Linked DNA regions of Homo sapiens: regions 2 and 3 are each linked to region 1. Evidence: fine-mapped expression QTL. A gene starts in region 1. Each other region holds a variant in brackets. All regions are shown on one strand. Distances are from middle to middle.

The links. PIP is the estimated chance that this variant, and not a neighbour inherited with it, causes the effect.
Region 2: its variant is fine-mapped to the expression of ADRA2B in aorta (GTEx, PIP above 0.99). The same link has a PIP of 0.9 or more in cerebellar hemisphere and lung.
Region 3: its variant is fine-mapped to the expression of ADRA2B in subcutaneous fat (TwinsUK, PIP 0.95).

What each region holds. Positions count from the first base shown.
Region 1 is chr2:96,112,833-96,119,827 of GRCh38, forward strand. It overlaps ADRA2B (adrenoceptor alpha 2B), which reads right to left and starts at 3,739. Exons shown (of 1, transcript NM_000682.7): 1 at 44-3,739. The coding sequence starts at 3,317. The coding sequence ends at 1,965. RefSeq lists silencers at 3,639-3,728, 3,829-3,988, 3,999-4,458, 4,499-4,568.
Region 2 is chr2:96,068,987-96,075,981 of GRCh38, forward strand. No RefSeq gene overlaps it. Among named protein-coding and RNA genes, the nearest start is that of GPAT2, 38 kb to the left of the region's middle. The variant G/C (reference allele first, on the strand shown) is at 3,851.
Region 3 is chr2:96,226,433-96,233,427 of GRCh38, forward strand. The region is part of intron 1 of STARD7-AS1 (STARD7 antisense RNA 1); the gene reads left to right. Among named protein-coding and RNA genes, the nearest start is that of SNORA112, 15 kb to the left of the region's middle. The variant T/TG (reference allele first, on the strand shown) is at 4,398.

The sequences.
Region 1 (6,995 bases):
TAACTGCTCCAGGCAGCCTTTGGGCAACAAGGACACCACTTACTTATTACAAAATATCCTTTATTGATAAAATAGCTCAGAGTTTAAAAAAAAAAAAAACACCACCTGCATGTCGCAATAAGAGGTCACAGGCAAGAACACTGGGGGTCCCATGGGGCGCACACAAGACCGGCCAGCAGAGGGTCACAGTCAGTCCCTCTCCTGGCCCAGCTCCCCACCACATCCCAGGGCGATACTCTGGCCTCAACAACCCACTGAGGACCAAGCTGGGAAGCCTCCCACACCCCAGGAAGGACTCTTTTTGGTCCCCTCCATTCTCTCTACACCCAGAAAACTCCCTCGGTGCCCTTCCAAATCTAGCAGGTCCATCTGGCCCATTCCCCCGACACCTGCCAAGCTAAGATGCCTACTGGCCCAATGTTGAAGCCAGGCCCTCTCCAAGGGAAGGCCGATAAACCTCCTTTCCACACTTCCAACTGTTCTGGGTGCCAGGTTTTGGGGTGGGACTGAGAACCAGGAAGCAGGGGTCCTCAATGCACAGCCCCATCAGCATTGCGGGGAGCAGCGTGGCTGGGTCCGAGGCAGTCCACAAGCACCCACCTGGGGGGATCAGTTGTGGTTCACAAGGACTCATTTGGGGCTTGGAGACCTGGCCGGGCACTCCAGTGGGAGGCTCCCCTAGGGGCGCACCAGGCTCTGATGCCAGTACCCCACCTGGGGGCGCTGCCACCTGTCACAGGCTCTCATCTTAGACTGTTGCCGAGGTGTGGATATTTTGAGCTGTCTTGGGGAGACAATTTGCCTCCTTGATGACAAAAGACTTATCCCCCACTGGGGAGACCCAAGCCACTAAAAACCCTCTTGGTGTTGCCGGTGAAATGTCGAAACGTTGTCATGTAGCGTAATAACTCAGACCTTTGCAGCCAGAAGAACACATTCTCAAAGAGATCCTTTAACTTGAAATAGTGATTCTGTCTGCCACTCCCGGCTTCCAGTTCGGGGTAGGAATTCACACACCCCAGGGACAGAACAAAAGTCTACAGGAAGACAGGTGGTGGTAAACACAGAGGAAAGGGATTTTTATATCACCATATAATCACATTTTTGGTTCTCTAGTGTGTTCCCCCACAGAGCTCAAAGCTTTCTGCAAAGCCTTTCATCTCCCTGCAGCAAGTAGGCAGTGAGCTATTGTCGCCCCGATTTTTGCAGGGGGTGAATGCCAGTGATCGGGGATCTCCCGTCGAGGCAGAGACCAGGCCTCCAAGACCGCCCCAGCGAGGCATCCACGTGGCCACCCACCTACCGGAGGGGTGCTGGGTAAGGAAGCCGATCCATTGTTCTGGCTTTCAAAGGAACCACAGATCCGAAAACAGGCAAAGGGGGAAAGGAGGGCCCAGAGACGATGCCACCCCATAAGCCCCCATCCCAGCGCCTGCCAGGGACCGCGAGTGCCTAGCGTGGGTGATCAGTCTTCGTTTCTTCCTCCCCCTCAGCAGCAGGCCCCACTGGGAAAAGTGGAAGGCTGGCTCCGTGCTCTTTGTGGGTGGGGGGGAGATGAAAAAGAAACGAAAACACCACAAGCAAGTGACCTGCCAGGAACACAAGGTCCTCAAGAAAGGGAAGCCCAGACATTGGTCTGGAGAGCATGGGGCTCTGGGAAGAAAGTGCTCTCTCTTCTCCTGGTCTTGGCTATGTTCCAGAGGATTTGAACCACCTCCATCGGCCTGTGCTCAGGGAGAGGGTGGAGAAGGGGTCCCCCACAGCTAAGCCGGCAAGGGGAAGCTTCACTGGGACCCTTGCTAGCAGCCCCCCTGCCCACCCCTCCCAAGGGGTTCCTAAGATGAGGCCTACAGGATCTGGGCAGGGAGCAGAAAGCCCAGGGGAGGCAGCCACACACAGCAGGGCAAGAAGCAGGGTGACCCCGGCGCCACCGCACCAACCCCACAGGGGCAGCGCAGGCGGGCTCACCAGGCCGTCTGGGTCCACGGGCGGCACAGGATCCTCCGGAAGGCACGGCGGAAGTCCTGGTTGAAGATGGTGTAGATAACAGGGTTCAGTGAGCTGTTGCAGTAGCCGATCCAGAAGAAGAACTGGAAGAGGCCATGGGGCACCTTGCAGTGCTTCGGGCAGATGGCTCCCAGGCTGTAGCTGAAGAAGAAGGGGAACCAGCAGAGCACAAAAACGCCAATGACCACAGCCAGCACGAAGGTGAAGCGCTTCTCCCGGGTCAGCTGCGCCCGTCGACGCCACCACTGCCCACCTATAGCACCCACGCCCCTGCCCAGGAGCACCTGGCCACGTAGGGTGGCCAGCACCCGGGAGCCCTGTGGCTGCTGCAGCGGGGGGCTGCAAGCTGAGGCCGGAGACACTGGCACTGCCTGGGGTTCACACTCTTCCTCCTCCTCCTCCTCCTCTTCCTCCTCTTCAGCTTCATCCTCTGGAGATGCCCCACAAACACCCTCCTTCTGGCCCTGGCCTGAGTTGGGAAGGGCAGCCCAACTGGGTGGCAAGGCCCGGGTCCCAGTATCTTCAGGGGTCTCCCCCTCCTCCTTCTCCCCAGTGGACTTCGAGTGTCCGTTGACCTCTCTGGCAGAAGCCACAGAGGCCAGGGCTGGCAGTTTGGCTGAGGCCAAAGCCCCACCATGGTCGGGTCGGGGCTGCTTGGACTCACCCTGCCCAGGCCCCCCCTTGGCCCTGGGACCTCTGCGGTTGCTGCGTTTGGCGATCAGGTAGATGCGCAGGTAGACAAGGATCATGATGAGGCAAGGAGCAAAGAAAGATCCGATGCTGGAGGCCAGGATGTACCAGGCCTCCTGGTTGAGCTTGCACTGGGGGCGCCCGCGCGGCTGGGGGCCCTGGTCGCCCTTGTAGATGAGGGGCGGCAGCGAGATGACGGCGGCGATGAGCCACACAGTGAGGATGATGCACTTGATGCGGCGCGGGGTGCGCTTGGAGTTGTACTCCAGCGCGCGGCTCACGGCCCAGTAGCGGTCCAGGCTGATGGCGCACAGGTGCACGATGGACGAGGTGCAGAAGAGCACGTCGAGCGCCAGGTACACCTCGCACCACGTGCGCCGGAAGTACCAGTAGCCCAGCAGCTCGTTGGCCAGCGAGAAAGGGATGATGAGCGTGGCCACCAGGATGTCGGCGGCGGCCAGCGACACCAGGAACAGGTTCTGAGGGGCGCGCAGCGAGCGGCTGGTCAACACAGCCAGGATGACCAGAGCGTTGCCGAAGATGGTAAAGAGAATGAGGAAGGTGATGGCCGCCGCTATGGCCGCTGTGGCCTGCACGGAGTAGGGGTCCTGGTGGTCCATGACGGGGCGGGAGGTGGGCAGAGGGAGCGCTGCCCGCCCAGTGCGCACCGTGGACGACAGCGCTGCCCGGCTCGGCTAGACAAGAGCGTCGCCCCTCGGGCGGCGCCGAGGGCGCTGGAGCCCCATGGCCTGGACGAGCGGGGCCTAGGAGGTCGGGAACACCCAGGACCAGCAGCCGCCCTCCTACATCCTCCTCCACCGGTGCCCGGGGTCCCTGCCGTCCGCCCCAGAGAAGTTTCCCAAGTTGTCCCGCCGCCGTCCCCGTCCCGCCCGGGACCGGAGAAAGTCGCGCCCTCCCGCCACGCGGATGCCGTACGCTCTGGGGGCGCGGGCCGGGCTGGGCCGGTTCTTAAAGGAGGCGCGGAGGACCTTGCGCCCGCTCAGCTCGCAGGCTTTCGCCCCAGCCGCGCCTGCAGGGGAGTGGGGAGCGGGGAGAGCGGCTGGAGGAAGGCGGAGACTGGAGGCGGGCGCGGGAGCGGGCGGGAGGCGGGGCGGTGGGCGGACCGAGGTGGGCTGAAGGTGCGCTTCGCGGGAGGCGTGAGCCCGGGACTTCCCGCGCCCGGACCCCGCCCAGCGCCTCTACCTGCCTTCCTCCCGGCGGCCGCGCCTCGGGAGAGCGGAGGGGCCCGGCGGCCGGGGTCTCCGGCCCCCAGGCAGGACGCGCGCAGCTGTGGAGGGGTCGGTGGGTGCCGGGAGCCGGGACGCGGAGCTAGCGCGCGGGCCGGCACCGGGACGGGACACTTCTCCCGGGGGAACCGGGCTGGGCCCGGCGCCGGTGCGCCCTGCTCTGCCTTCCGCCGCTCGGGAGCCCGCAGGGAGGGCAGGGCGGGCGTGGGGCTGGGGCGCCGGGTCGCAATACACCACAACCCCGCCCGGCTCGGCCGTGGAGACGCCCTGCGGAGAGGTGGGGGAGCGGGGAGCGGGGAGCCGGTCCCGACCCTTTCCCAGGCGCTGCCCCTCGCGGACCAGCTCCGTCGGGCCAGCGCCGCGCGAGGAGGGCGCGTCCCGGCCTGCGAGCGCCCCCTGCTGCCGCCCGCGGGCCCAGCCCGTCAGCGGCAGCCCGGGTCCCGGAGCCAGCGCTCGCAGCCTGGGTCTTAGGACTTCGGCTTCTTGTGTCTCCGCAGCTGCCTCAGTTTCCTCCATTAAGGGCAAAGGAGGTAACAGGGAAACTGGCTTGGACTCGAATCACAGCATCAACTGCGATTCAGCCAAGGGTTTGTACGGGGCACAGGGCGAGCTGCCGCCCCTTGACTAATGCGAAGGGGAGGTCCCTTCCTTGCCGTGGGGGAGTAAAGGGTGGGGACTTTGTCACACAGCTCCGAGAAAAAGCAGGTCTCAGGGGCAGCCGTGAAGAGAGGAGCGTCCCTCCGCTTCTGTAGTGACCCCGGGGGAAGGGGTTGACCCTCCCTCCCTGCTGCGGTCCTGCCCCACATACACACTGAAGCCCTTCTGGGGGTGACAGTGGAAAGAGGGTTGGGGTAAAAAGAAACTTCAGACTAAGGCCCCCCACTCGCCTTCAAAGCGCTATGAGCAACTGTTCTCCCTCAGGGCCCCAACTCACTCTCCCTGCCACACCGCCACCAGCACCAGCCTGGGCAGCCCTGAGGGCATGTTTCCCCGGTTCTGGAGCCCCTAATGTCATAAGCCCCGCCTCGAGCCAGGCCTCTTATTCACAGCCCACGACTCTGCAAGGCATCCTCTGTATAAATAAGCACCAATCCACCTCTGACAGTGGGGCTCCCCCAGGCCCCGTCCAACCTGCTGGACCTCCTCTCCTCCCTGCTCCCTCCATGGGAGCAGAGCACGTGGCCTCTCAGTGCCCACGGACAATGTCTAGCGCCTCCCCAGGCTCAGGTGGGAGGTGCCCCGTCTCAGGTACCCAGACCAGCACCCCCAGCCACGGGGGTGTGTTGGGAGTAGGTGCCTCCTTGATCCCCCCATCCCTGTCATTCTGCCAGACTCCCCAGCTTCTGGTGAGGTGCAAGTGCCCACAGCCCATGGGGTGGATGCTGCCAGGGCTGGGTTCGGACAGGGCAATCAGCCTCCTTCCCACCCCCAACCCTAGGCTTCAGCTCAAAACCGACCACTCTGCTAGACACAGTTTCCTGGATGTGTCTTTCCCACCCTCTGGGCTGGGCAGGGCCTGGGCGCCGCCTGGGCATACATAACCAGTGATGGAGAGATGCCAGTAGCTCTTTCCCTGAGGAAGGACAGAGGGTGGCCATGAGAGCCTGGGAGCAGCTACTTAGGCAGGTGCCTGCCTATCCAGGGGCTCCCAAGGCCTTCACAGTCTGGGCCTGCTAGAGGCCCACATGGGCATCGGGAGGAACCGCCTTTCCACTGTCTCCAACCACACTTGGGCTGGGGGCCAGTGAGCAGCTCCCCAGACTCTGCAGCCAGCATCAGCCTTTGTCTTCTGACCCATCTTCCTTCAAGGGATGCTGCAGGAGCTGAGACTGGGTTGCCCGTGTGCCCTCCCCACCCTGCAAGTCCCCACTGAGGACGCTTACCTGGGCCTTCCTAGAAGTGACAACTTTGGGTCTACTGAGTGCCAAGCCTTGCTAGGCATCTTTCATTGGGCCAGCTAGGCACTAGGCCAGGTGGGGACAGCCAGGGACAGAGTCTACAGCTGGCAGACCTGGGAGATGTGTGCCCTCCGGGCAGCAGGAGCTGCCTTGGCATCCATACCGCTGCCCCAGGCTGTCACCGTCTACTGCAGCTGTCTCCTCCTGGCTCCACCCCAGGATGGACAAGTGCAGCGTGGGTGCGCCAGCTCTCCACGGCCACGCAGGCCATAACATAACTCAGCTCCTGCTCCTCTCGGCGGCTCACCATCTCCCCCCGCACACACACACCTTCAGGCCTTGCCTGCTCCAACCAGCCCCATGAGGCTGCCAGGTGCAGGAATTGGAGCCTACTAGCATAGCAAGGCTTCCTTCAGCTCTTCCCAAACTAGACCTGACCTTCCACTGTCATCCTGTTCCACAGGAACGGGCATAGTTCAGTCCCAGACCAGCAACAGCCAGCAGCAGGAGCAGCCGGAGCTTTCCCAGACACATAGCAGGGGAGTGGGCAGCAGGGCACAACCTGGATCCCAGCCCTCCATCCCTGCCCCGCCAGGCCAGTGTTGGATTCTGAATGTGCCCTGGGTCTCCACTCTCTAGACCTTCCCTGGGGCTGTTTGCTCTGATAGAGATGCCCTATCACCCTTCCTTCTGTGTTTGGTGGGCTCCTACTCACATTTCAAGGCCCACTCACCAGTCACCAGGCTCTCAGGCAGAGGGAGGACCTCCATTCTCCAGGTTCCTCGACGCCAGGCGGCACCACTTTCACACTCAGCACACTGTACTAAGATGCTCTCTGATGGGTTTGTTGCATCACCTCTGCCCATCAGAGTGGACATCCCTTCTCTGTCCCCAGTACCTGGCACAAGGTCATTGGCCGTGAGGGACAGTGGCAGCAGGCAACAGTGCACTCATACACATGAGCATTCTAAGACAGATAGCCCAAATGAGGGTGCCCTGGAGGGATGTCCTTGGGAAGAGGGGCCATGGGGAAAGGACCTAGCCATGGAAGCGATCCACCTTTTCCAAAGAAGGGCAAGACTGTTGTCCCATTGCTGGCTGTGAGACCTTAGTTGGAAGCCATGGAGACACTTCTCCAGGCCTGAGAGGTGAG
Region 2 (6,995 bases), 44 kb before region 1:
CTGGGTTCCTGTGACGCCTCGGCTTCTCCTTGCACACCCAGAGAGACCCAGCCAGGGCCCCGCACTTTCTTCACCCTTTTCCCTGGGGGTGGACGCCCGTGGTCTTTCCTGTTATTTCCCAGGCAGCACAGGAGAAGCGCGCATACCCTCAGTCCTGGGTGCATGTAGGGTGACTGCCCCCGAGGTCGCCACTCAGCGGGTCCTGGGCAGCTTCCGCAGGGACTTGGCCTCTGCTTCCTCCACTGCAGCTGGGGGGTTGGACTGGATCTAGTCCATTCGAACCTCCCCAAGGATGGGCAGGGGGCACACCCCTCCCACTGTGCCTGTCCTAGCAGATGACCCGGACCCGGAATGTGGGAGCACCAGGGGTTTGCTCTGGGCCAAACACCCCTGGACACCCCTGCCCCTCTGCCCCCACCCCCTCTTTACTTCTTCTTTCCCTCCCAATACCACAAGTCCCCACACCATGGCAGAGACAGGAGCCTGTGTGGCCAGCAAGCCCAGCGAAGGGGGCTCAGGTGTCATCTCCACCCCCAGCAGAGGAGGGAGAACACCCCCAGCCAGCTTTGCAGCTCCCCCATTTCTCCCTCTCCCGCTGCTGCTACTGGTTCAAAAGATAAAATAAAAACCCTCTGCATCAACAAATAAAATAAAATCACAATAAAAAATTTATATTCCTGGGATGTAGGTCTTTCCAAACAGGAGCAGCTGCTGCCAGAGCTGAGTCTGTCAGAAGCAGGGCGGGGCTTTTTTTCTTACTAGGAGTTTCTTTTTTGTTCTTTTTTTCCCAAGGAGGCACGTCCAGTTAAAATACATTCCTGGAATGGGAGCTCCATGCGCTTTCCTGGTCATCAAAGCTGCCGTTTGTTAGCATGTTCTTTGCCTGTTATCTTGTTTGTTTGTGAGGATTGCTGGAGTTTCTTTTTTGAGATAGAGTTTTAGGCTGTTGCCCAGGCCAGAGTGCAGTGGCGCGATCTCACCTCACTGCAACCTCCACCTCCAAGGTTCAGGCAATTCTGCTGACTCAGCCTCCCAAGCAGCTGGGATTACAGGCGTCTGCCACCACACCCAGCTAATTTTTTGTTTTTAGTAGAGATGGGGTTGGATTGTTGGAGTTCCTGAGTGACAGGATGTTGCAGCAGAGGTGGTGAGTGGGGGAGAGGGGGGTATCCACGAAGTCAGGGGAGCTGCCTAGCAACTGGAAGCCAAAGGGGTCAACCCACCAGCCCCTCTGGAGACAGCTGTCTGCAGCTCAGACGTCGTTGAATACGGCAGCCACTCATTCGGCTAAATGTGGGGATGCATTAAAGACATTTGCAGACATCCTTTCTTCTATTGCACCTTTTCTCAGGAAACTTTTAGAAGCATTCTGTCAAAACTACAGACTAGAACATGAGTCACCCCCTGCACGATGCCCAGTCCTGTCACTGGGCAGTTTCCTGAAAGCTGCGATCATCCCCCATCTGAGTTCCAGATGCAGTGCCAAGGCTGGGCTGGGGGCATAGGGAGGAGCTGGCCCAGTGAACGGAGCACAAACCAAGACAGCCCAGTGAGGGTTCCCCAGCGAGAGACAGAGCAAAGGGGTGCATTCAACATTCGGGTTCCCAAGACCCCTCCACACAGGCTGTACCCAGTGTTGGCATGTGGTAAGGGGCCTGTTGTGCAGGTTGGCCACTGCTCAACTGAAAAAAAGTGGCAGCTGCCAGAGGCTGGCCTTGAACCAGGGAAGCTACCCACTCTTTAGCCAGCACTCTGCACTCTATTATGTTGCCATTACGGAATGAAAGTGGAGCCCGGATATTGCCCCAGACCTCGACCCTGAGAGTTCAGTGCTACTGGCTGCCCAGAGCCCCTCTCTGTCTGTCTCTCCTTGGCCTGTAGGAGAGTGTGGCCACAGGTAGTATCCAAAGCCTTTCCTTAGGGCCTTCTCCTGACCTATCCTGCTTCCCGGGCTCAGGGGACATCTCCCGGAGTTCCAACCACACGACTGAAGATCCAGCGAGCCTCATGGAAGGGGTTGTGTGTTGTCTTTCTCACGTCCCTTTCTTCTCTCTGTCCCTCTGCCCCTGCCCTTGCCTGGGAGAGCTCCAGAGTCACCCTCCTCCATCACAGAGCAATTTGAGCTCCAGGCCAACAACCCTAAGATGGGCAAACCCAGCCCATCTTTGGCTCAGCCAAATCCTCCAGTTCCCAGCCACCCACCCACTTGCAAACACACTTATGTCTTCACCCCACAGGTGACCTGTGCCATACTCCTAGGGGTGTTCAAACTCCTGCCCCGTGCCACTCTATGCAGAGGGGCCGGCTTCCATCCATGGGACTAAAACGGATGAATCCTTATGCTTTCGAGGCACAGATCAACCAGGAGAGACACAGCTGGGACAGGAATAAAGGGGCGTATGGCGCTCTGGCCTTCCTGAATCATGAGCCTGGAGCTCCACCTGGCAGTGGCATGGGCTTACATGGACTTCTAGGGGAATGAGGGAGCAATTCAAACTCCTCTCCTGAGCAAGAGGAAACAGGGCTCAGGAGGAAGATCCTGAGTGTCTGTCCAAGTCCCTCAGCCAGGCCTGAATCACTGCTTTCTCCCCATGGACAAGTGAGCTGTGGAAACAGACCCAACCACGCCAGGGTGCGAGGGCACCGGGATCTGGCAATGGCTGTTCCTCAGGTCACACCCCTTTCTGGGTCCCAGGGTGACATCCATCCAGGGATGAGGCGAAATGGACTCTATGGGGAATGTAGAGCCAGTCACCACTCCCTGGCCACCCTAGCCTGGCTGTCTGGAGGGCTATTTGAAGAATTCTGATACGGCCTTGGCTCAGTAGGAACAAACACAGCATGACGGGCACAGACGTGGTCAGATGTGGCCAAGGATTTGTCAGACCAGCCTAGATGCCTGTGAGATCCCGGCCTGGCATATGTTCATTGCTTCTCTGATCAGACAGCAAGTGCCACAAATGTGGCCACACACCATCCGAGGCCGCTCTGAGAGACCAGACTAGCTCTGGCGGCTCCAGAGGTCTGCTCTTGGGTCTTTTTTCCTGTGAGCCCCATTCCCGGAGGAGCAGCTGCAGCTCAGGGGAGGGGGTGATGCTCCCTCAGGGAACAGCGCCATGACTCTACGACAGTCAGTACTGGCAGCTGTCAGAGCTGTCATTCCCTGAGTGCAACTCTTAATGAACGCCCATTAAGCCTCCTCTTATGACTGCATAATTGTTGCCACAAGGAGGCTTTGTTCTCTTTATTTTGGAAATGAAACAGTTTTATATCCCTAAAGCAAGAGAGATGCACACCAGCTTGGGGCTCGCACTGGAGAACACAGAACAGCAGGGCAGGGGCTCCACTGGGTTGGGGCTCTGGTGTCCCCAGGCTACTGCAGACACAGCCCTGAGCCCAGGGAGCAGCAGCTGTTGTTTCTGCAGCAGAGCGGAGCAGCCGGGTCAGCTCCAGCCCTCCTGTGAGCTGTGGGAAGTTGCCACAGGCCCACCAGCCCTCCTCACTTCTCCTGTAGCTCCCAGGAACTGTCATCATGAACCATCTGCACCCTCACCATCCCTTAGGGGCTGGGCAGTGCTGGGGCTATTATTCTCCTTGACCTTGAGAAAACAGAGGACGCCGGGTGGCCTGGCCAGGGTCCCTCGGATGTAAGAGGAGGATTAACAGGAAGAAGTTGAGCATGTCCTATGTCCCAGGCATATGTGGTCTAAGTCTTCACATACACGACCTCACCTGCTCACTACCACAGGCTGCAGAGGAGGAGCTGAGCTCCCATGTTAAGGTGAGGCTCGGAGGCATTAGGTGAAGTGTCCAGTTCCCCAGCTCTTATGTGACCAGCTGGGCGTTCAGC[G/C]GAGATATTTCTACCTCTCTAGCTTCCCATCCTCAAGAATGTGGCTGGGCCAGACCTGGACTCTGAGGACATTCAGGGACACTGTGCCTCACCAGCCCTCTGAAGCGCTCAGAACGCGTGTCCTGACCCAGCTGCATGCCAGGAACCGTGCATTGGGAAGTGGGTGGACAGGAGAGACAAGACATGCTCCTTCCCCCAGAGGAGGCTGCAGGCAGCAAGCGAAACCCTTAGGTAAGATCGGAACAGCCGTCCACCACTGGGAGCATGAGCTGCATCCTGCCTTGGGGGGCCGCTTTGGTGGGAGTGTGCTGGGCAGAGAAGAAGGGAAGGACATCCAGGCAGAGGGGGCTCCTGGGCAAAGGCTCGAAGGTGCAGAGGTGAGAGGCATTTGGGAGCTGGTGAAGGCATTGGGGGTGGCCTCCTATTGGGGAGGAATGAAAGGGAAGGGCTCCTCTGGCAGGGGCCCCGTACTTTCCCGTGGGGACTTGAGTGGGGCTGGCTCTGCACCCCCACCCCTGCCCAGGGAGGGCTCCACTGTCCTGGGCTGACCAGAGAAGCAGTGGGTTCTGTCAGGAAGGGGAGGCTTCTTTAGCCCCGTTCATGAGGCAGCTGGGGGAGGAGGAGGAATGCAGTGGCATCCCACAGAGTGGCCCCGGGCCACTGACCTGCCCTCTCTGCCCCATTTCCTCACCTGTGACACAGAGACCCACACACCCAAGCCTCTAATCTGCTTCTAAGAACATTGTGAGAGCCAGTGATGATCAGAGGACTGCTTATTGTAAAGCAAAAGCTCCAGAAGGCTGTAAGTGAACAGGCCTGGGACATGAGAGCTAAAGGGCCCTGGGCTATCTGAGTGTCCAGCCTTCATTTAACAGCAGAAGAAACAGACCCAAGGAAGTCAGAGAATGTGGCCAAGATGAGCCGATGAGTTCGGGCAAAGACAGAACCCTGCCTTCTCTCCTGCACCATGCTAGCTCCAGACTGGCAACCCTTTCTCACCTCTGCCTGCTTCATCCCAAAACATTTCTCCTCAGCCTGGGTGCTGAATGGGATCACACCATTAGAATGGTTTCTTGGACATGGTTACTACGCATGCCTTTCTTGGGGAGACTTTAACAGGGAATCAGTCACTCACACTTTAGTATGAATTAGTTTTATCAGCAGTTATTTAGCATTAGTAGCATGAGGATTTTAAAGAAAAGAGCAGAGAGAGGAATACCTGTGGACCTAGGAAGGACAAGCTTGAATGGGCCCAAGACAGCTGCTACAGTATAAAGAGGAGATCTGGTTTCCAGTCCAGTTTCTAGAATGTATTCACTCTGAGCCCCAGAGCCCATCTCTATAAAATGGCAGCCATCAAGTACTTGAATCAGAAGTCCCTTCCAGGATGACATTCTGGTTTTCTCCACCGTAGGAGAGGGTCCCCAGAAGCGGACCAGGCTCAGGACAGGAAGGCCAGGCCTCTGGGCTCTTCATCTCATGGGCCAAGCCCTGTCACAGATCTCCACAAAGCCAAGGCTCCAGCAGGAGTCAGTCACAGAGGAAAACGCTGCCTCCTCGGCAATGCAGGAGGTGGGCTGAGCCCCAGCCAACCCCATCTTCAGCTCTCAGCAGCCTCTGCCAAGCAGGAGGCCCTGACTCTCCCGTGACAAACATAAATATTTGTTCCATCTGTGAGTCCTGACTTGGCTACAGAGCTCTGTCGTGTCCATTCTCTTTCTTTGGTAACAGTACTTTACTAAAGTGCAGGCTAATTAACATATAGTGAAGTACACAAATCCTAAGCTATAGCTTGATACATTTCTACAAATGCATACACCTGTAACCATCACTTGCATCCAGATAATCAAAGGAACTTGCAACGGTGTAATTGTATTGATCTCTCTCTGCCTGTTGCACTAGTGTTATTATATATTTTACTTCCACATGCTTATTATTTTGCTTTAAATGGCCAAAAGTGTTTTTTAAAGTAAAAAACAAAAGATAATCTCTTATATTTTCCACATATTTACAATTCCTGGTCCTTTCTATTTCTTTTGGGTAGTCTGGGCTTCCATCTGAGATTCTCTCCCTTTGGCCTCAGAAATTCCTTTAGTACTATTTATAGTGTTGCAATGAATTCCTTAAGCTTTCGTTTGTCTAAAAATGCCTTAATTTGGCCTTTATTTTTGAATGACATTTTTATTGGATATAGACTTCTAAGCTCACAGAATTTTTCCTTGAGACCCTTTAAAGTGGTTCTTCAATTGTCTTCTAGCTGCCTTTGTTTCTAGTGAGAAATCAGCTACAATTCTTATTGTGTTTCCCCTAAATGTAACCTGATTGTATTTTCTGGATGATTTTAAGATCTTTTTGCCTTTGTTTTCTAGCTTGATGATGATATCTCTAGGTATAGCCTTTCTTGTATTTATGTAGTTTAGGGTTATTTTTATTCTTGAATCTGTGGGTTGACGTCTTTCATGAGTTTTATGAAGATGTGTTCAGTCATTCTCTCTTCAAATATTTAGTCAAGCTCCATTCTCATTCTCCTCTCCTTCTGGGACTCCAGTTATACATACAACATGCCATTTAATATATTGTTTGATAGCTTTTGATGCTCTATTACAAGGGTTGCCAAACTTTTCTAAAGGGCAAGACTTAATATAGGCTTTGCAGGCCATATGGTCTCTGTCACAACTACTCAGCTTTTCTGTAAACAATGTCTGGTATGTCTGGGATCCATAAAACTTTATTTACAATAGCAGGCAGCAGGTCAAATTTGGTCCATGGGCCCACAGTTTGCTGACCCTTCCTCTGCTCTGTTGTTGTTAGTTTCTTTCCGTGCTTCCACTTGGAGAACTTAGTTTGACCTGCCTTTGAGTTATTGATCCTTTCTTCTGCTTGTATCCAATCTGTTGTCAACCCTATGAAGTGAATACTTCATTTTAGATTCTGTATTTTTCAGATCTAGAGTTTACATTTGCTTGTTGTTAATAGACATTATTGTTTATTTCTTTGTTAATAGATTTTATTTTTCAGAGCTGTTTTAGGTTCACAGCAAAATTGAGCAGAAAGTACAGAGAGTTTCCTTATACCCTATGTCCCACACATACACAACCTCCCCTACTATCAACATTGCCCACCTGAGTGGTACTTTTCTTACAAT
Region 3 (6,995 bases), 110 kb after region 1:
TTTTGTTTTTTTGAGATGGAGTCTTGCTCTGTTGCCCAGGCTGGAGTGCAATGGTACGATCTCAGCTCACTGCAACTTCCACCTTCCGGGTTCAAGTGATTCTCCTACCTCAGCCTCCCAAGTAGCTGGGATTGCAGGCATGTGCCACCACACCCAGCTAATTTTTATATTTTTGGTAGAGACAGGGTTTCGCCATGTTGGCCAGACTGGTCTCGAACTCCTAACCTCAGGTAATCCTCCACCTGCTTCAGCCTCCCAAAGTGCTGGGATTACAGGCGTGAGCCACTGTGCCTGGCCTCATTGTGATTTTAATTTGTACTTCTTTGTTGAGTAGTCTTGTTAAGCATTTTTTCATGTGCTTATTGACCATTTGTTTCTCTTTTATGACTTGTTTTTTGAAATATTTTGCCCGTTTTTAAATTTAAAAAAAATTATTTTTTATTATTTAAATTGTTTATATATTCTGGATACAAGCCCTTTATTCAGATATGTTTTGAAAATATTTTCTCCAGTTCCAGGCTTGCCTTTTCATTGTCTTACTTGTGTCTGAAGAATACAAATATTTGATTTTGATGATGTTCAGTGCATCAAAAAAAAAATTTTAATGGTTTGTGTCCTATCTAAGAAATCTTTGCTTATCCAAACATAACAGAGGTCTATGTTTTCCTTTAGAAATGTTATGGTTTTCATTTTTACACTTATATCAATGATACATATTGAGCTAATTTTTATATATGATATCAGGTAAGGATAGGGGTTCATTTTTTCCCCATATAGATATCACGTTGCTGTAACATAATTTGTTGAAAAGATTATCTTTTTCTCCCCATTCTAAAGGCCTTTGCACTGTGTTGAAACCCAGTTCACCATATATGTGTGGGCCTACTTCTAGACTCTGTTTCATTGATCTATATGTCCTTATGCCAGTTTCACCCTATCTTGATTAGTGTAGCTAATAAAGTAATTAGTGTAGCTATAAAGTAAGTACTGAAATCAATTAAATATAAGTCCTCCAACCTGGTTTTTTGTTTTGCAACGTTTTTTGCCTGTTCTGAGTCCCTTGTGTTCCCATATACATTTTAGAGTCACCTTGTCAATTTCTACCCCAAAAAAATGCCTGATCAGATTTTGATTGGGACTGCATTGAATCTTTAATTTGGGGAGAATTGATGTCTTAGCAATATGGAGTCTTCCCAATTCATGAACATAGCATATCTCTTATTTATTTATTCCTCCATTTAACTTTCTCAGCCATTTTTTTAGCTTTAGTGTATAGGTCTTGCATGATTTTGTTTAATTTATCCTTAAGTGTTTTTCTGATTTTTGGTCCCGTTGCAAGTGGTATTTTAAATTTTTCAATTTCCAATACTTCAATACTAGTATATAGAAATATAAAAGGTTTTTTTTGTTTGTTTGTTTGTTTGTTTTTTGAGACAGAGTTTTGCCCAGGCTGGAGTGCAACGGAGGAGATTTCAGCTCACCTCAACCTCCACCTCTCGGATTCAAGCGATTTTCCTCCCTCAGACTCCTGAGTAGCTGGGATTACAGGCATGTGCCACCACACCCGGCTAGTTTTGTATTTTTCAGTAGAGACAGAGTTTCTCCATGTTGGTCAGGCTGGTCTCGAACTCCTGACCTCAGGTGATCCGCCCGCCTTGGCCTCCCACAGTGCTGGGATTATAGGTGTGAGCCACTGTGCCCAGCTGAAATATAATAGTTTTTATGTTGACTTTGTATTCCACAATCTTTATTTCTTTTATTTATTTATTTATTTATTTATTTATGTATTTATTTATTTATTTTGAGACAGGGTCTCACTCTGTCACCCAGACTGGAGTGCAATGGCACGATCTCAGCTCACCGCAAACTCTGCCTCCCAGGCTCAAGCGATTCTCCTGCCTCAGCCTCCTGAGTAGCTGGGATTACAGGCATGTGCCACCATGCCCGGCTAATTTTTGTATTTTTGGTAGAGACAGGGTTTCACCATATGGGCCATGCTGGTCTCGAACTCCTGACCTCAAATGATCCACCTGCCTCAGCCTCTCAATGTGCTGGGATTACAGGTGTGAGCTACTGCGCCCAGCTGTCCCACAATCTTTCTATTAGTTCTAATAGCTTATTTTGATAAATTCCTTAGAGTTTTTTATATACACAATTATGTTTTCTGCAAATAAAGACAATTTTCCTTCTTCCTTTCCAGTCTGTATGTATGAGTCCATTTTCTGTTGCTTATAACAGAATACCTGAAGTTGGGTGATTTATAGAGAAAAAGAAGGTGATGGTGACACTAAAAGCTTAGACTTCACCACTATGCAGTATATTCATGTGACTCAACTGCACTTGTATCCCTTATATTTATACACATTTTTAAAGGGAAAAAAAGAAAAAAGATTTGTTTCTTATAGTTATGGAGTTCTCAGAAGTCCAAGGTTGAGGGGGCATATCTGGTGAGAGCCTTCTTGTTGATGGGGACTCTACCGAGTCCTGAGGTGGCCACAGGGTGTCCCATGGCAAGGGGGCTGAACGTACTAATGTGCTATGCTCACGTCTCTCTTCCTCTTATAAAGTCACTAGTTTCACTCTGATGATAACCCATTAATTCATTAACCCTTTAATATACTGATCTATGAATTAATCTATTCATGGGGGTAGAACCCTCTTGATCCAATCACCCTCAAAGGCCCCACCTCTCAACACTGCCACATTGGGGATCAAGTTTCAACATGAGTTTTGGAGAGGACATTCAAGCCATAGCACTGTACTTGTTTCTTTTTCTTGCTTTATTTCACTGACTAGAACCTTCAATACAATGTTGGATAGAAGTAGTGAGAGTAGACACCCTTCACTTGTTCCCAGTTTTAATGACAAAGCATTCAAACTTTTACCCTTTTCCAATCATGTTTCTCTAATGTAGAGCTACAACTCTGACCATCTCTCCTTCTAGGTAAAATGAGCAACCACATGCACCAATCAAAGTTTTGCCCACTCGGAAGATTTCCTTTGACCACTGTTCTCAGGACCACCTTGAGTGGGGTTATAACAATATGTGATGCAGAAACATCTGTAACAAGGAACCAGACTTGAATTTTTTTTTTTTTTCCTTAGGCAGGGTCTCACTGTCGCCCAGGCTGAAGTGCAGTGGCACGATCACCACTGCACTTCAGCCTCAACCTCCTAGGCCCCAGTGGTCCTCCTGCTTCAGCCTCCCAAGTAGCTGGGATCACAGGTGCATGCCACTGCACCCGGCTATTATTATTATTATTATTATTATTATTATTTTGTATAGGTGGGATCTTACCATGTTGCTCAGGCTGTTCTCGAACTACTGGGCTCAAGCAGTCCTTCCGGCTGGGCCTCCCAAAGTGCTGAGATTATAAAATGTAAGCCACCGTGCCCAGCCAGACTTGAATTTTTTTTTTTAATTTTTACCTCCTTGGTCAACTGGTGATAGGTGATTTCCCATGAGGCCATAGATGTGGGTTGAGAGAGAATAGGCAATGTAGCAGGAGTAGTTACTCAGAGAACTTGCTTCTGCATTTAGGACCTGCTCAGACCCAATCTCATTTATACCATTTCCATTTCATAATGACTCCATCATTAAGTAGATGGAGTGCAACTTTCTGGCTTGATGAGTCATATAATACCCAATTTAATTTATCATTAATAAATAATGATATTTAGGCTTAGCTCAGGACACTTGATAATTTGGTGGCCCACAGCCAAGGGCTTTAGTGTCCACTAGGGCCAAGTGACATGCTCGAAGCTGTATCTCAAAAGGAGAATAGTTACCTGCAGAAGATAGTATTGTGTTTCTTCTGATTTCATCTTGAGGCCTCTTTCTGGAGAGTGGCTGTAAACTCTAGCCCTGTCCTGACTCCAGGGCCCCAGGAGAGCTGGCCATGGATGTTTGCAGTGCGCCATTGACAGGATACTTCATTATCTGGCAGATGGCCTAATTCCTAAGTGTCAGACCCATGACCAGGTGTCCGTCTCACAGGAAACTTGTTGATACTGGCAGACACCTGTGTGGCTCTTGTCTGACTTGTGTCCAGTTTATTCCTACCAAGATAGCCACTCTGTAGGAGAACCCTCTATGGAATGAGAGTTGGGTTCAGGTATGATGGTCAGGTGAGTTGCAGAGGAGGCAACACAGCAAAACACATGAAGTAACAGAAGCAGTGTATTGCTTACAGAGCTCTTACAGAGAAGAGGGCAGCACGCCTCTCAGGGCCAGTGGGGAGAGAGCTGGCCAGGACACACGTGCTTAGCTGGGGAGCAGGGAATGAGAGAGAAAGCAAGGGGCCTGAGGGCTAATGTCTGTATTGGGTCCAGGCCATTACCCAAGCAGGTTTCCTGAGAGGAGTTTTTGTTTTTTTTGTTTGTTTGTTTGTTTTTGG[T/TG]GGGGGGGGGGTTGGTTTTTGGTTTTGTTTTTTTTGTTGTTGTTTTTTTTTTGAGACAGAGTCTCACCCTGTCACCTAGGCTGGAAGGCAGTGGTGCAATCTTGGCTCACTGCAACCTCCGCCTTGCAGGGTCAAGTGATTCTCATGCCTCTGCCTCCCGAGTAGCTGGGATTACAGGTGCCCACCACCACACCTGGCTAATTTGTGTATTTTTAGTAGAGACATGGTTTTGCCATGTTCCCCAGGCTGGTCTCAAACTCCTGACCTCAGGTGATCCTCCTGCCTCGGCCTCCCAAAGTGCTGGGATTACAGGCATGAGCTGCCATGCCCAGCGGGTTTTTGGTTTTTTGAAATGGTCTCATTCTGTTGCCCAGGCTGGAGTGCACTGGCGCTATCACAGCTCACTGCACCCTCTACCTCTCAGGCTCAAGCAGTCCTCCCACCTCAGCCTCCTAAATATCTGGGATCACAGGAGTGCGCCACCATGCCTAGCTAATTTTTAAATTATTTTTGGTAGAGACAAGGTCTCGCTATGTTGCCCAGGCTGTCTCAAACTCCTTGTCTCAAGCAGTCCTCCCACCTTGGCCACTCACAGTGTTGGGATTACAGGCGTGAGCCACTGCATCCGATAGGAGTTCTAACTGGTAAGTTTAGAGCAAGCAGGCACAAGTATCATGGGGTCATGCTGTGACTCAGAGGTGGTCACTGCAGCATGTCTGGGCAGTCCATGTGGGGCGAGGGGGTTGGAGCAAGTCACATATGTAGTATCTAGGTGTCCACAGGGAAGTGGTCATCAGGAGGTGGTTGTATAAGGCAGGTATCTAGATTGATCACACTGAGGAGCTAGGAGGAGGTGGAGAACTGGACAATGTGTCAAGGGTGACTGAGTCCTGCTTTTTATATGAGAAAGGCTAACCTGTATTTAAAACAGATGCTGAGACAACATACAATTATAAAAATTTCGCCAGGTGCAATGGCTCATGCCTGTAATCCCCACCCTTTGGGAGGCCAAAGCTGGAGGATCACTTAAGCCCAGAAGTGTGAAACCAGTCTGGGCAACATAGCAAGACATTGTCTCTACAAAAAAAAAAATTTTTTAAGTTAGCCAGGCATGGAGGCACACGCCTGTAGTCCCAGCTACGTGGGAGGCTGAGGTGGGAGAATGGCTTGAGCCCAGGAGATCGAGGGTGCAGAGAGCCATGCTTGCACCACTGCAGTCCAGCCTGGTGAGACAAAGTGAGACCCTATCTCAGAAAAAGAAAAGAAAATATCCTGAGTTGCAAATGCCCTGAATACACCTAACCTACAGGACATCATAGCTTAGCCTAGCCTACCTCAAACATGCCCAGAACACTTACATTGGCCTACAGTTGGGCAAAGTGATCCGTCCATACAGCCCACTGTAGAATATTGGTCATCCAGCCTAGTGATCCTGTGGCTGGCAGAGCTGCACTCACTGCTGCTGCCCAGCATCACGAGAGAGCATCGCACCACATATCACTCACCTAGGGAAAGATCAAAATCCAGCATTCGAAATACAGCTTCTACTGAATGCACATCGCTTTCGCATCATTGCTGAAGTAAAAAAAATTAAGTTGAACCTTCATAAGTCAGGAACTGTCATGACAATGTCATCTTTTCTTCTGGGCCCCACTCAAAACTGATAGCCTTTTAAGTTATTCAGAAAATGGGTCAGAGAAGAACATTGAAATGAGGTATACATTGCCTTCAAAATCCAAAACCACTGGGCATTGTGCCTCTTAGTGGTAGTAGGGCCCAGCTTAACATGCCCCAGACCGTTAGGCCCCCCAGAAGGTTCACTGAATGTTTGTGGGATTTATTTCCCACCCTCTGGCATACATATATCTCGTCAAGGTGGCTAGAATAGTTACTACTTCTAATCAGCATATTATCAACACATTAGATGAATGTGATGTCCTGTGGAGTAGAGAAGAGGACAAGGTCTCCACAAACTAGATGATGACAGATGACTGCGAATTGATACAGTCCTGAGTTTGGATAACGAATAGGTATTGCTAGCCCTGTCAGCTCAAAGCAAACTGCTTTTGATGGTCTTTACTAAAAATTGCTGAGGAAAAAAGCATTCATCAGATCAATAGCTGCATACTTTGCTCCAAGGGATGCATTGATTTGCTTCATGAATGAAGGCACACCTAGAATAGCAGCTGCAATTGGAGTCACAACCTAATTGAGTTTATAATAATCCACGCCATTCTCTTGGATCCATCTTGGATCTGCACAGGCTAGAGAGCTAAGCTGAATGGAAATCATCAGCTCTGTGTCTTTCAGATCATTGATTAGTGGTGGAACTAATTTCTGCAATCTCTCCAGGAATGCAGTGCTGCTTTTGGCTCACTGCTTTTATAGGTAGAGGCTAACATTTATATGGTTTGTCTTTTTTTTTTTTTTTTTGAATAGAGTTTCGCTCTTTTTGCCCAGGCTAGAGTGCAATGGCACTATCTCAGCTCACTGCAACCTCTGCCTCCCGGGTTCAAGCAATTCTCCTGCCTCAGCCTCCCAAGTAGCTAGGATTTCAGGCATGTACCACCATGCCCAGCTAATTTTGTATTTTTAGTA